Linked DNA regions of Homo sapiens. The main gene of each other region encodes a partner of the protein of the gene in region 2 in a complex. Each region holds a gene or a part of one and is shown on either strand. Other genes may lie near its edges.

Region 1 (7,184 bases), on a different chromosome or scaffold from region 2:
AAATCATTTTGAAAATAAAGAAAAAAAGCTATTATAATTGGTTAAGGATTTCCAGTAGTAAGTTAAAATCTCAGGAGAGGAATGGATAGCACTACAAACAATGTGTTCACATTCCAAGACCTTAACACTAACTTCTCAGAAAGGAAGTTTTCATTACCTCTAAAAATCAATTCAATGTAATTTTATTAAGAGCAGGAAATCTAGACCTTCCTCTAATGACAATCCAATAATCCACCCTCACTGTCAAAAAAAAGTTCAACCCCAAAATTAACAGTAATTAGCCTGAGGTATTGTAAATGTGGCTCTACAGTCTGAAATTTAATGGCATCTTTTGTCAAAAATAGTCTTATTTCCACTTTAAGTCTCATGACTACAATACTATAGTGCTATCCCTGTAGTATTTACAATACAGTCATCAAAAATATCTGAAAACAAATCTTGGACCTTGTGAAATAGTGCATCCCTCCACTTCTATAAAAATAGGAGCCACACAAAGATCTAAAAAGAGTGCTGACTGCCCAGATCCAGAACAGAGGTACTTAACACCTTTGTTTTCCAGTTTAGTTATCAAAGCGTGGTGTGAACAAAATGCTTAGTGTCACACTGGCATTACAAATAGGCCCAAAATTTTGAGCTTTTAACAAGATTGAGAAACATTATATGAGATTTAACTCAATATGCCTTAACACATCCATGAGGTAGTTAGGTAAACAGTACTACCCATTTTAATTACACAGTAAACAGAAGCACGGGTAAGTGACATACTCATACTTTAAGCAATAAGAATTAGAAGAAACCATAGAAGCTTGGGGCCTTCTCTCTAGCTCTAACCCAAAGAAAATGAATTTTTTTTTTTTTTTTTAAAAGAAAACAGCATCAATCACTTAAGATTTTCTTCCTCTTTTTTTTTTTTTTTTACACTTGCTTATTAGTATAGCATCTCGTTCCAAAGCTGGTACCTTTTCTTCAACAATGTGTTAAAAACTGAGTATAACCCTTAATTCAAGGTAGGCCTCTACTTCTACCTGAATTGGTACAAAATTAAGACATTATCTTGTAAGAACTAAAATTGTATTTGAAATTTTTATTTTAGCTGCAAAAACAAAAACAAGCAAACAAACAACAAATAACTTGAAAATAGGCTTGTCAAATGATGTAAATTCATCCTTTCCAGGGAAGCAGAAGGTAGACCCTACCACAAAGAAAAGATGCTTAGTTAATGGAGGTTAAATTTAAAAATACAGTTAAATTCAGGCTAACTTCTGAAAATCCCGTTTTATTCACCTCACTGTGGTACCAGTAACTATACTGAGTCAGGTTACTTTACAGTTAACTATGTCACCTAAAACACAATAATCCATTAACACTCTAATAACAGTTATTGGGTGTGGTCATACTGGAAATTCTTAACCATATAGTTGTCTTGCCAATTTTTTTTTTAAACAATAAATTGTCTTAGTATAAGTCACTGCATTTCTGTAACAAAGTAATGAAAGGCACAGCTAATCCAAGCGGACTTAACCCTATTCAACAACCAGCTGAAAAAATACTTTGGTTCTTCAAGGAAAAAATTACAAAAAAAAAAAAAAGGTATTTCCTTTAACAGTTGTTAATTTTCATAGCTGTACTCCAAGAGCTACATAAAAATATTCCAGAAGAACCAAATTATGTAGCAATGAATGAACATGCGTGACAGAATTTGTGCATTCAACATAGCTGGCAGAAAAACTAGTTAAAATGCTAGGTAGAACAAATTGGTCTTTAAAATATCAGTTTCCTGTCCTTTAAAAAAAAATTACCTAGTCTACCAAGAAAATACAAAAACATAAGGCTGTAAGTAAATAAGAGTTGTGTTTAGGCTATTACAGTGCAGGTTATCCTCAAGGCCACATACATCCTGCTTCACTGCTGCTTGCACTCTGCTGGGTTTTGATCCTTCTGTTAAAGGAAAACAACAAGTCAATCTATCTTCTTCTACCTGCTTCAGTGAATTTCTCAATAGTAATTACTGCCTTAATTATAACAGTAGCTCACTGTTGTCAAAAGAAATGGTATAGGACAATGGTGGTAAATTATTTATTTTATTAGCAAGTCACTGAAATGCTAAAATCAAGCTCAAACTTTACACTGTAGAATTAACTCCATAAAATGTGACACACGCTAAACCATAATCTTAAAAAAATAAAGTTACCAAGCAATTTATGTTAGTTATATTACCAATCAGCTTTGTTTTTGCTAATCCTAATATAACAAATTCTCAGGAATAATAGACTAGGACTCTCAGGGACTGAGTAAGAGTAGTTGGAAGGATCTAACAAACTGCACTGCTCCCCAGTTCCCGAACACTCCTACAACCAGATCTTTTAAAAACCTTTATTTTCTAATGCTTAAAAACTGTTACAAATCGTCCCATTAAAATAGAATCCTAGGGTTCACTGTACCTGAAACTATAAAAAGCACGAAGTCCAAACAAAAAACAATGTTTTTTAGAAAAACGTCCACTGAAATTATGTGTACTGTTCACAATGCCAGTGGGACTGAAAAAACAAAGTTATCCAGTCAATAGGCTTTATTTATTAAAGACTTTAACGGAGAGAAACTTGATATTCAAAAACACCAACTCTTACTTTAGCTATCTTAAATTTAATAGAAAGCAGCACTAATTTTGCTCACCTTTGGGTCATAGTCTGGATCATTTTCCTCATCTCCTTCTTCTTCCCCTTCCTATATTAAAGTTCAAAATGCATCCATGAAGTATGTACATAGTAGGTAAACTGGCTCATAATGTAGGGAAAATTTAATACAAGTTACTCTACGGATCAACAGATTTTCATGATTACAGACTTTGATGATAATACAATTTAATTTGAAAGCTTCTAATATGAAAAATTTCCCAACACAACTTGAGACATCCAGACAGCTTTTATTGAAAATAGTTACTGCAGCCAACGTTGGAAAAGTTTACTGCAGCTTTTGACTTCTTCAAAGAGCTGATAACCCTGCAGCAGAACAAAATTATTTGAAATAAAAAAATGTTGCTGAGTTTTGCAATTTATTTATTGAAACCTTATACATACATTGTTTGGCTGTAGAATTCTAAAATCATGTTTTCCAAAATGTTTTTATCCCAAATCACAGAATGATTATAGCAAAGGAATACATAAGTCATTCAATTTGCTTCTCAATGTGTTAACCACAGAGAATTATTTGCTCATTTGGTAAACATTACCTCATCCGCTTCTTCACCTTCTTCATCATACTGAAAAGGAAAAACAGCGTTAAGTGTTGAGTGAATGTAACACACATTTCAGAGTAGCATCAGTAACATTTATCACTGTATAAACTAGTGTCTAAAAAGAGAAAACCTACTTTCCTATCAAGGGGCTGATTATAAATTAAAACACATAGTAGCTGCAAGAATCACTCTGCTCACTGCCAATTTATAAAATTAAAGAACAGAGTACAATCATGTGGATAAAGTGGATGATCAGACAAGTATTACTGTAAATATTACTCACCTACACTTAAGTGTGGAATGCACTGTACGAAAAGGACCTAAAGCCTACTCTAACAATTGCCGTTGAGCAATAAACATATTCAAAACATCTATATGCAACCTAATCTTAACCTAACCATCATTCAATACTACCTTGAATAGAAATTCTATGCCTCCCAGTAAATGTTTTCTTGTGCACTAAAGAAAGTCCTAGCTCTGTGAAGTCAAGGCAAGGGCATAATAGATCTATAGCACTAACCAAACATAAAAAAGTTTCATAAACTCAGAACAATCTTATTAGCAGAAAATTAAAAGCTAAGATAAATGAATCCAAAAATCCTAAGGAGACATACTTAAAACCCAGAAAAGCTATATACAGAACATCAGTAATTAGCCTAATTTTGAATTATATTATGTCCTGCTTCTTAAAAACTAAACTAATCTATTACCAATTCTGACCACTATACCCTCAACCAATTATTTCTTTGCAGGATTCAAATTCGCTTACATCATCATCATCATCTTCAATAGCTTCTCCAGTAAAATATAACACTGATCTTGGGATTATACGCTCACGTAAAAAGTGACCAATTTCGAAGTCTGCAGCAAGGATAGCTTCAGCATCATCATCCTATTTTTAAAGGAAAACAAAAGCAGAAAATTTAGGAATAACTGTGTTACTTAATTTGGCACATGTAAGACTCTTAGAGGCTGGGTGTGATGGCTCACAACTGTAGTCCCAACACTTCAGGAGGCCAAAGTAGGAGGATCACTTGAGCCCAGAAGTTCAAGAGCAACCTAAGCAACATAGTGAGACGCCCCCTGCGTTTGTACAAAAAATAAACAATTAACTGGGCAGGGTGGCACACGCCTGTAGTCTCAGCTACTTGAGAGGCTGAGGTGGGAAGATTGCTGGAGCCCAGCAGCTTGAGGCTGAAATGAGCTGTGATCACACCAGTGTACTCTAGCCTGGGCAACCGAAAAAAAAAAAAAAAAAAGACAGACTCTTCAGTTTAAATTATATGATGAAGGGAAGAAATGCTCAACTTTACTTTTTACTTTCCATGATTTTTCTCACACCATGTTAACAAATGATTTGTCATTTTTAAATTTCCTTAATAACTTTTCCAAGTTTTTAACAAAAAGAAAATAAGCTAGCAGGCCAGTATGCATACTAAGATAAATTGTGAAGAATAAAAATTAGAACTGCTTAGTTTTTGCTGGTTTAAACATAAATACATAAAAGCAACTGTTACATGTCCGCAATTTTCCTTTTAAAATATTATTGAAAACACCAAATAGAAAAATAAAAAAAAAAACCCTTGGGTTATTGTTAATATATAGTTATTGTTAATATTGTTAAGTACATAGCAAATAGAAGGACATAATAAACAACCACAGAGGATCACTTTATAGTTCCTAAAAGACAGTACCCAAACAGCTGTACAGTTTTAAGTCTACTAATCCCAAATGAGACAGTCCTAGTTCAGAAAGACAATATACTAACTAAATCAGGTGCCCCTAGCACTTTTCTTTTTTAGAGACAGGGTCTCGCTATGTTGCCCAGGCTGGCCTCAAGTGATCCTTCCACCTCCGCCACCAGAGCAGCTGGGACTACAGGTGCCTGAAGCTGTACCTGGCTTAGGATTTCTATTTAATAGAAAAGCACAGGGCAAAAGTGGGTCTGACATTATTCACAATTAAAATAATCCCACTTTGGCCTGGCTCATGCCTGTAATCCCAGGACTTTGGGAGGCCAAGGCAGGCAGATTACCTGAGGTCAGGAGTTCAAGACCAGCCTGGCCAACATGGTGAAACCCCGTCTCTACTAAAAATACAAAAATTAGCGAGTTCAATGGCACGTGCCTGTAATCCCAGCTACTCGGGAGGCTGAGGCAGGAGAATTGCTTGAACCCGGGAGGCAGAGGTTGTGGTGAGTGGAGATCGCACCACTGCACTCCAGCCTGGATGACAGAGCAATACTTCATCTCAAAAAAAAAATAATAATAATAAAATAAAATAATCCCACTTCTATGATACTAAACAATGATACAAGTTCTATGATACTAAACAATGAGCACACCCTCTGTGAATTCCATGAATGTTTGAGTCAACAACATAATCTAATAAATAGAAAAATCCAAAAGGGGGTGGGGAGGAATTCAAACCACAGGTGGAGGTTTTCTATCCTTAACTAGACTGTTTTGTCATCATCAATATTTAGTAACAAACAAACAAACAAACAAAAAAAAACCCCAAACTTGAACACAAACTCCAACCCATCCACTGATATGAAAATAGTGTGATGCTCTATCTTAATACTTAAAGTAGTTTTTCTCACCTGAAATTCACACTGCTTTATGTTCTCTTTTTTTGTCCTATAAGCCAAGCCAGAAATACTTACTTTTGCCTTTTACAAATTTGTTCTAAGTCTTAGCCAAGAGTATTCCAATTCAAAAGTATTCAGTTTAGGTTAATTTCTAATTCCATATATGTACAAACTATTTAAACTATCTCAGTTAATTTAAATTCAAAAACATGCCCAAAAGAAAACCAAATTCAAAACATACCTGCCCTACCTTGTGTGTATAGACTTTCTTTAAGGTTGTTCCTCAGTTCAGTCTATATGGCAGGAACATTTCATGTTCTTTGCCATATGCCATATATGTGAACATACTTAGTCACAATATGAAACCATATTTACATTGGAGTAACAAATTCAGGAATGAATTTGAACCATAATGTAGTTAGGAATGTAACAGTATAAGTGACTTAATATATTCTGGTTTTACTAAGGAAGACAACAGTTTTGAAAAGTTAAATCCCTCACAGCAATATGTGAAGTTTCAAAAGAAAAGAAAACCTTAAGCTTTTTATCTCAGTGTTTCTCAGCAGAAGCACTGATATAATTTTGAATGGAATTATTTTTCATATCCAAAAAGTCTGCCCCATGCATTGTAGGCCTCAGAACTCAATGTAACAACCATCCCACTCTCCATTTTTGAAATTCAGTGCTTTAATTTCAAATATACTTAACAATTCAATAAATATATAACAATTCAACTTACCAGATCTCCACTCTCAGGAACTGCAAAATTGAGAAAAGAAATTACAATGAATAAGAAGCTAAGCAATGCTTTTTATAAAACAACCGTTAATACTCAAGCTAAAACATTATTTACCTTCAGGAGGGGCAAAAAAGTTAAAGAAAGAGTCATTGGAAACTGTTTTAGTCACAGTACGAACTGTCCCACGTCCCTTGTGTTTCTGCTTCTTCTTAATAGTTTTCAAAGTGACATTCTTTCCTTTTTTCCAATCTATCTGGCACCTTGCAAAACAAAGAAGAAAAATCTATTACAATTGACAATCTTTCAACTGCTAAACTTTTAGAAGTAAATGTTCTATTTAGATTTCAAATTTTAGAAGGGTGAATTGCTTCAAATGTTTTCTATAGCAGTATAAAGGGAAAAATTTTATTTCTAAGCAAATATTTAAAATAAACACATTTACAATTAGCACAAACACATAGTATAATTTAAAGAAGCATTCCTCTGCAAAAATATATGTGAGACAGTCATGGGTCCAAGGAGAATTACAGGAAACTTGATAAGCACTTTTCAGAAAACATATTACCAAAATGTTCAGAGACAGACTATGTACATATGTAACTGAAAATAACCGAGTATAC
Region 2 (5,381 bases):
TGATCCCAAACCCCTGACCTCAAGTCATCTGCCCGCCTCTGCCTCCCAAAGTGCTGGGATTACAGTCATGAGCCACCACACCTGGTATCTTACCTTTTTAAAAGGAGTCTGTCATCCACCACAATGGTCTAGGGTTCTAGGGTTCTCCCAGCCTCCCTCAGCTGTCTCCTTTCCCTACCTGTCCCTGTGGAGGAGTGCCAGGCAGGAGTGGAAAGAATGTGGCAGGGAAGGATCCATCCAAGTCTAAACTGGGCAACCATTTTGGCTTAGCGTCCAGGAGTTGTGGCACCTGTCCACCGCCAGGTGCTATGACGTCGGCTCTCCCAGAACCTGGAAGGAGCTGAACTGGTCAGTTGTAGGTCTCTGGAGACTACAGCTGCTGGGAGGCTGCTCTAAGCTGGCTCCTGAGGGGCACACCACCGGCCAGGAGGAGGCCAGAGGACTGCTCCAGGACAAGAAGTACAAAAGGCATGCAAGCAGGTCTGGCAGGCAGAGGGCAGTGTGGGCGGGTGGGGGTGCTGTTCACAGTGGCCCCCACCTGGCCAGGAAAGCCAGGACCCACTGCCACATGCCTTCCCTGGCAACAAACAAGGTCTTTCCTTCCCCAGGAAGGGTGTGTGTGAGGGACACAAAGGCAACGGAGCCCAGATGAATGGCAGAGGGAGGTTTAATGGTGTCACCTTGTCTTGCTAATGAGCCAACACAAAAAAAAAAAAAAAAAAAAATGCAAGTAAAAAAAAGTTTAATCACACAGCACTTTATACAGATATCGTAAGCAGTAGGCATTCACATCTCCACATGTACAATGCACTGGGAAGCACAGCCCCACCAGTCACTCCGGGTGTTTCTCAAACAAGATACCGACTCGGTTCCAAATGCCACGGTGTGTGGTCCGGCTCCATCCTCCCGCAGCTCTGCTGGCTGGGCGGTCACAGCACAGCACAGGTGTGGAGCCCACTTAAGGCTGACAAGACGCATCATGCTTTGGCTTTTTTTTTGTCTTTTTTTCTAATAAGAGTTAATATCTTTGCTTTTGAGTTTTTTTTCCAACCTTAAATATTACATACATACACCAAAAATTACATAGCTGCAATGTGCTCAACAGCATCCTCTCGGCCTGGAGCTTCACATTATCAAAAGCTTAGAAAACTTGTAAACCTCTGGGCCTGTCTCTGGGCACTAGGAGAGCCCCCGCCGGCCGTCCCCTTCGGATTGAGCCTGCAGTTTGTAAGCGAAGGGCTGACAGTAGGCCTTCTAGTCCAAGAGAGGGCTGGCTCGCTTGGAGTTCAGTGAGCTGCACGCCTGTCCCAGTGTGACCATGTGATGGGGGAGGGGCCCTAGCACTTGCCCTGGCCTTGTGCAGCTGCTCTTGCCCCCAGCAGCCTCCGACAGAAGAGCAAGGCACCTATAGCTGTTGCTTTCCCTGCAGCTCCCTGGTCCTCAACTCCATGTGCATGTGTGAAGGCCACCACCTCTCCTGGGCGTCACCCGGAACCTAGCCTGGTCCCAACCTCTCTTAGAGAGCAAGTTCAACAGGCCTGAGGGCTATAACGTGGTCGACAGGCCATGTATAGCCGGGAGTCAGTGACAGCAGCTACAACTCCCAAGGGATAGTGTTGACGCTGGAGGACTAGGGAGGACCTGGGTGGTGGTGGCAGCAGGAGGGTCTGGGACACAGGGAGGCTTGAGTTGAACTAAACAGGTTGAAAGGGACCAGGGGAATTGTTGGCGCAACCCACACTTCATGCAAGGCACATGTGCTCTCCTGCGGGTCTGCAGGGAACCGGCCCAGAGAGCCCCGCGGCAGGCCCTGGAACACCCGCCTCTGACCTGAGAAGGGGCAGCAAGGGAGCAAGTGCCGGACATTCTGCTGGGGTGACAAATGGAAAATCGGCAACAGGGTTCCGATTTTCTTTGCCACAGGGGACCCGCCTGTTGAAAGCTCGCTTCAAAATAGAAACGGCAGCATCTCAACACACTTCTTGCACTTCAGCATCAAACTCACCTTGGGGAGAAGAGGGCAGTGGGTTTGCAGTGGGGACAGAGGGGCATGGGAAGAGGGGTGATTCCGGGGGGGAGTGAGCAGGCGGCGGCTGGCCTCTCCCACGGTGATGCTCTTTCCTCTGTGCCTGGCAGCTACTTGTCCTCTGTGCACTCCGGCATGCCTGCCTCTAGCAGGGCAGCCCGGAACTGCGTCAGGACACCCCGGATGCTCTTGATGAAACCCTTGGAAAGTGGGAAGAGGGGGAAGCCGATGTCAGGGTAGCCACTCTTCTCAGGTAAGAAGCTCCGGTAGCTCTTTCTCCGCTTCTTTGGTTTCACACTGGGTGGCACCGATGCGTCTGGTGCGGTCTCCGAAGTCTGGTCTGTGTGGTCCCTGCTAGCTGAGGCCAGGCCCTGGGCACCGCCCTCTGAGTCTGAGCCCTGGGAGGCCTCTCCTGGGGCTGGCCCTCCATCCTCAGGTTCTTGTTGGCCGGAGTCTGACAGCTCGGCTACAGCTGGGGGCTCTGGCGAGCTGCTGGCCTTGGGCACCCCGTTGGGCAGTGCCTGGGCCTTCTCCAGCAGGGCATGGGTTTCCAGCCAGGACTCGATACGGTTCACCAGCCGCCAGCCACCAGTGCTAAAGTGTTGCCTGATCTCCTGCTCAAAGACCTCGGGGGGCCGCCGCACCAGCTGGGTCATGGACTGCACCACGCGGATCAGCGCCATCTCATTGTAACAGCGACTGTTTTCATAGCCTTCCTGCAGGCCTCGGTCACTGTCGAAGCCGGCTTCGTTGTAGTATGGTTCATTTACCAGGATCAGACCTGTGTGGGCGGGACACCTTCCCTCAGTGGGTGAGAGAGGCCCACAATGCAGGCCTACCCTCCACCTGCCAGGGGGACTATCAGAGTCACTTTCCTCCACCGGCCCTCCCTTGTCCGCACCCCCGCTTCAGCCCAACTGTACCTTGGATGGAGATGAGCACCTGGAGAAGGCTGGACTTGCTTGTCCACCTCTCTGTCCCCTGAAACACACAGGGCACCATCAATTCTGTTCCCCAGGCCCCTATCCACCAGTGGCTCTTCCTCCTTCTTGGCTGGGGGCCTGGCCCTATACTCACCTTTCCAATCCAGGTGCCCAGGAGGCTGACACACACCTTCCCATTGTCATACAGGTTGGGGTTCAGGCGGCCACTGCATTGGGAGAGGTAGCAGAAGTGGGGGGGCACGGCTGGGTAGATGTTGGGGAGCTGGATGTCAAACAAGTAGAGGCCATCCTCGTAGGGGGTTCGAGTGGGGCCCTTGATGAGAGCTGAGAAGAGGTCCTAGGTAGGGAGGGAGGGAGGGAGGCCAAGGTTGGCAGGGGTGGAAGGGGGTGTCCTACATGTGGCATCTGCATCTGCACCTGCTCTTTCCCAGGACACTGTGCAGATCACGCAGGAAGAGCAGCACCTGGGACTCCAGATGCCACCAGCAGTGGAGAAGCTAAGGACAAATCTCTCTCTGCAGAACAGCCTGGAATCTTTTTTTTTTGAGACAGGGTCTTGCTGTGTCCCCCAGGCTGGAGTACACTAGTGCAATAATGGCTCACTGCAGCCTCCCAAGTAGCCGGGACTACAGTGTGGGCCACCGTGCCCAGATGATTTTTTTATTTTGTGTACAGACAGGGTTTCACTATGTTGCCTAGGTTGGTCTCGAACTCCTGGGCTCAAGTGATCCGCCTGCCTCGGCCTCCCAAAGTGCTGGGTTTACAGCCCTGAGCCGTCACTGTGCCTGGCCCTTGCCTGGAATCATTGAACCCTGGCTAAGAGAAATACTCGAAGTGAGTTTTTATCTTATCAGGTGTTTTTCCTCATAAATCATTACTTTAAGACTGTATTCCAGCTGGGCGCGGTGGTTCGTGCCTGTAATCCCAGCACTTTGGGAGGCCGAGACGGGTGGATCACTTAAGGTCAGGAGTTCAAGAGCAGTCTGGCCAACGTGGTGAAACCCCGTCTCTACTAAAAATACAAAAATTAGCCAGGCGTGGTGATGCATGCCTGCAGTCCCAGCTACTCGGGAGGCTGAGGTGGGAGAATTGCTTCAACCCGGAGGCGGAGGTTGCAGTGAGCCGAGATTGTGCCATTGAACTCTAGCCTGGGTGACAGTGCGACGCTATCTCAAAAAAAAAAAAAGATTGTATTCCTCAGCCAGACGTGATGGCTCACACCTGTAATCCCAGCACTTTTGGGAGGCCAAGGTGGGAGGACTGCTTGAGGCCAGGAGGTCAAAACCAACCTGGGCAACATAGTGGGACCCTATCTCTACAAAAAATAAAAAATTAGCTGGGCATGGTGGTGCATACCTACAGTCCCAGCTACTCAAAAAGCTTAGATGGGAGGATCACTTGACTCCAGGAGGCTGAGGCTGCAGTGAGCTATGATCACACCACTGCACTCCAGCCTGGGCGACAGAGTGAGACCCTGTCTTTTATTTTTTGGCTTATGTGTTTTTTTGAGATGGAGTATAGCTCTGTCCCCAGGCTGGAGTGCAGTGGTGTGATCTTGGCTCACTGCAACCTCTGCCTCCCAGGTTCAAGCGATTCTCTGCTTCAGTCTCCTCACGCCCGGCTAATTTTTTGTATTTTAATAGAGACGGGGTTTCACCATGTTGGTCAGGCTGGTCTCGAACTCCTGACCTTGTGATCCGCCCACCTTGGCCTCCCAAAGTGCTGGGATTACAGGCGTGAGCCACCACGCCCGGCCAACCCTGTCTTTTAAAAACAAAACAAAACAATTCCTCTAAACACCTGCTCCAACCCTTATCCCCAACAAGGCAAGTAGTACAAGCAGTTTCAAGCTGAAAGGCAGTTCCAGGCTGGTGAGGCCTGGGGAAGGGGGGATGGTCTCACAACCAGAAGCTGACAGTGAGGGTTTGAACTCCATGGGGGAGGTTGGGAGACCACCGCTCCACAGACATCTGGAATCTGTGCATCTATTTGCGTGCATCTGTGCACACACGCGTGTGTGTGGGATCTCAACTGACAGGGCAATGGGCGAGGTCAGTGATGAGCTGAGAAGCAGGGAAGGCAGAGCGCTAGCTGGGGCGAGGGAACCTCTGCACATGCTCTTATCGGTGCCACCCTGGGAGCCTCCAGGGAATGCACTACTTTTCTTCTCCTGAGTGAGATGTGGGGAAAACAGAACAAAACAAAAAATACTGTTTCCATCTTCCCTCAGCAGAGCTGAGACAGGCTAGAATTTTCAAAAGGAATTTTCCTACAACCCAAGAAAAAACCAAAAGCGTTATTAAGAATCTCAAGCAGCACTGGGCCTTAGGACTCTGCCTAGCCCTGTTCCAGGGTTGTGGCTACTCCGGGCCCATCTCAACAGCATCCCGCTTGGCTGCTCTCAGGATCGC

What was found.
Region 1: the proteins of UBE2O (region 2) and NAP1L1 are in contact, whole or in part, in a cryo-EM structure (PDB 7UN6), measured with the Homo sapiens proteins. Residues at the interface, in NP_071349.3 of Homo sapiens: Ser225, Asn226, Val282, Lys283, Pro284, Val285, Lys289, Ser290, Lys291, Phe292, Arg293; in NP_001317160.1 of Homo sapiens: Arg333, Arg337, Thr343, Gly344, Glu345, Ala346, Ile347, Asp349.

Annotation. Positions count from the first base shown.
Region 1 is NC_000012.12:76,046,527-76,053,710, forward strand, and holds part of NAP1L1 (nucleosome assembly protein 1-like 1), read right to left. Parts: intron 6,825-7,184; coding exon 6,679-6,824; intron 6,585-6,678; coding exon 6,565-6,584; intron 4,128-6,564; coding exon 4,005-4,127; intron 3,260-4,004; coding exon 3,230-3,259; intron 3,000-3,229; coding exon of another isoform or gene 2,937-2,999; exon of another isoform or gene 2,725-2,936; coding exon 2,674-2,724; exon of another isoform or gene 2,063-2,673; intron 1,939-2,062; coding exon 1,903-1,938; 3' UTR 1-1,902. UniProt on the Homo sapiens protein: Histone chaperone that plays a role in the nuclear import of H2A-H2B and nucleosome assembly.
Region 2 is NC_000017.11:76,388,807-76,394,187, forward strand, and holds the end of UBE2O ((E3-independent) E2 ubiquitin-conjugating enzyme), read right to left. Parts: intron 3,308-5,381; coding exon 3,104-3,307; intron 3,008-3,103; coding exon 2,950-3,007; intron 2,808-2,949; coding exon 2,137-2,807; 3' UTR 650-2,136; downstream 1-649. UniProt on the Homo sapiens protein: E2/E3 hybrid ubiquitin-protein ligase that displays both E2 and E3 ligase activities and mediates monoubiquitination of target proteins. Negatively regulates TRAF6-mediated NF-kappa-B activation independently of its E2 activity.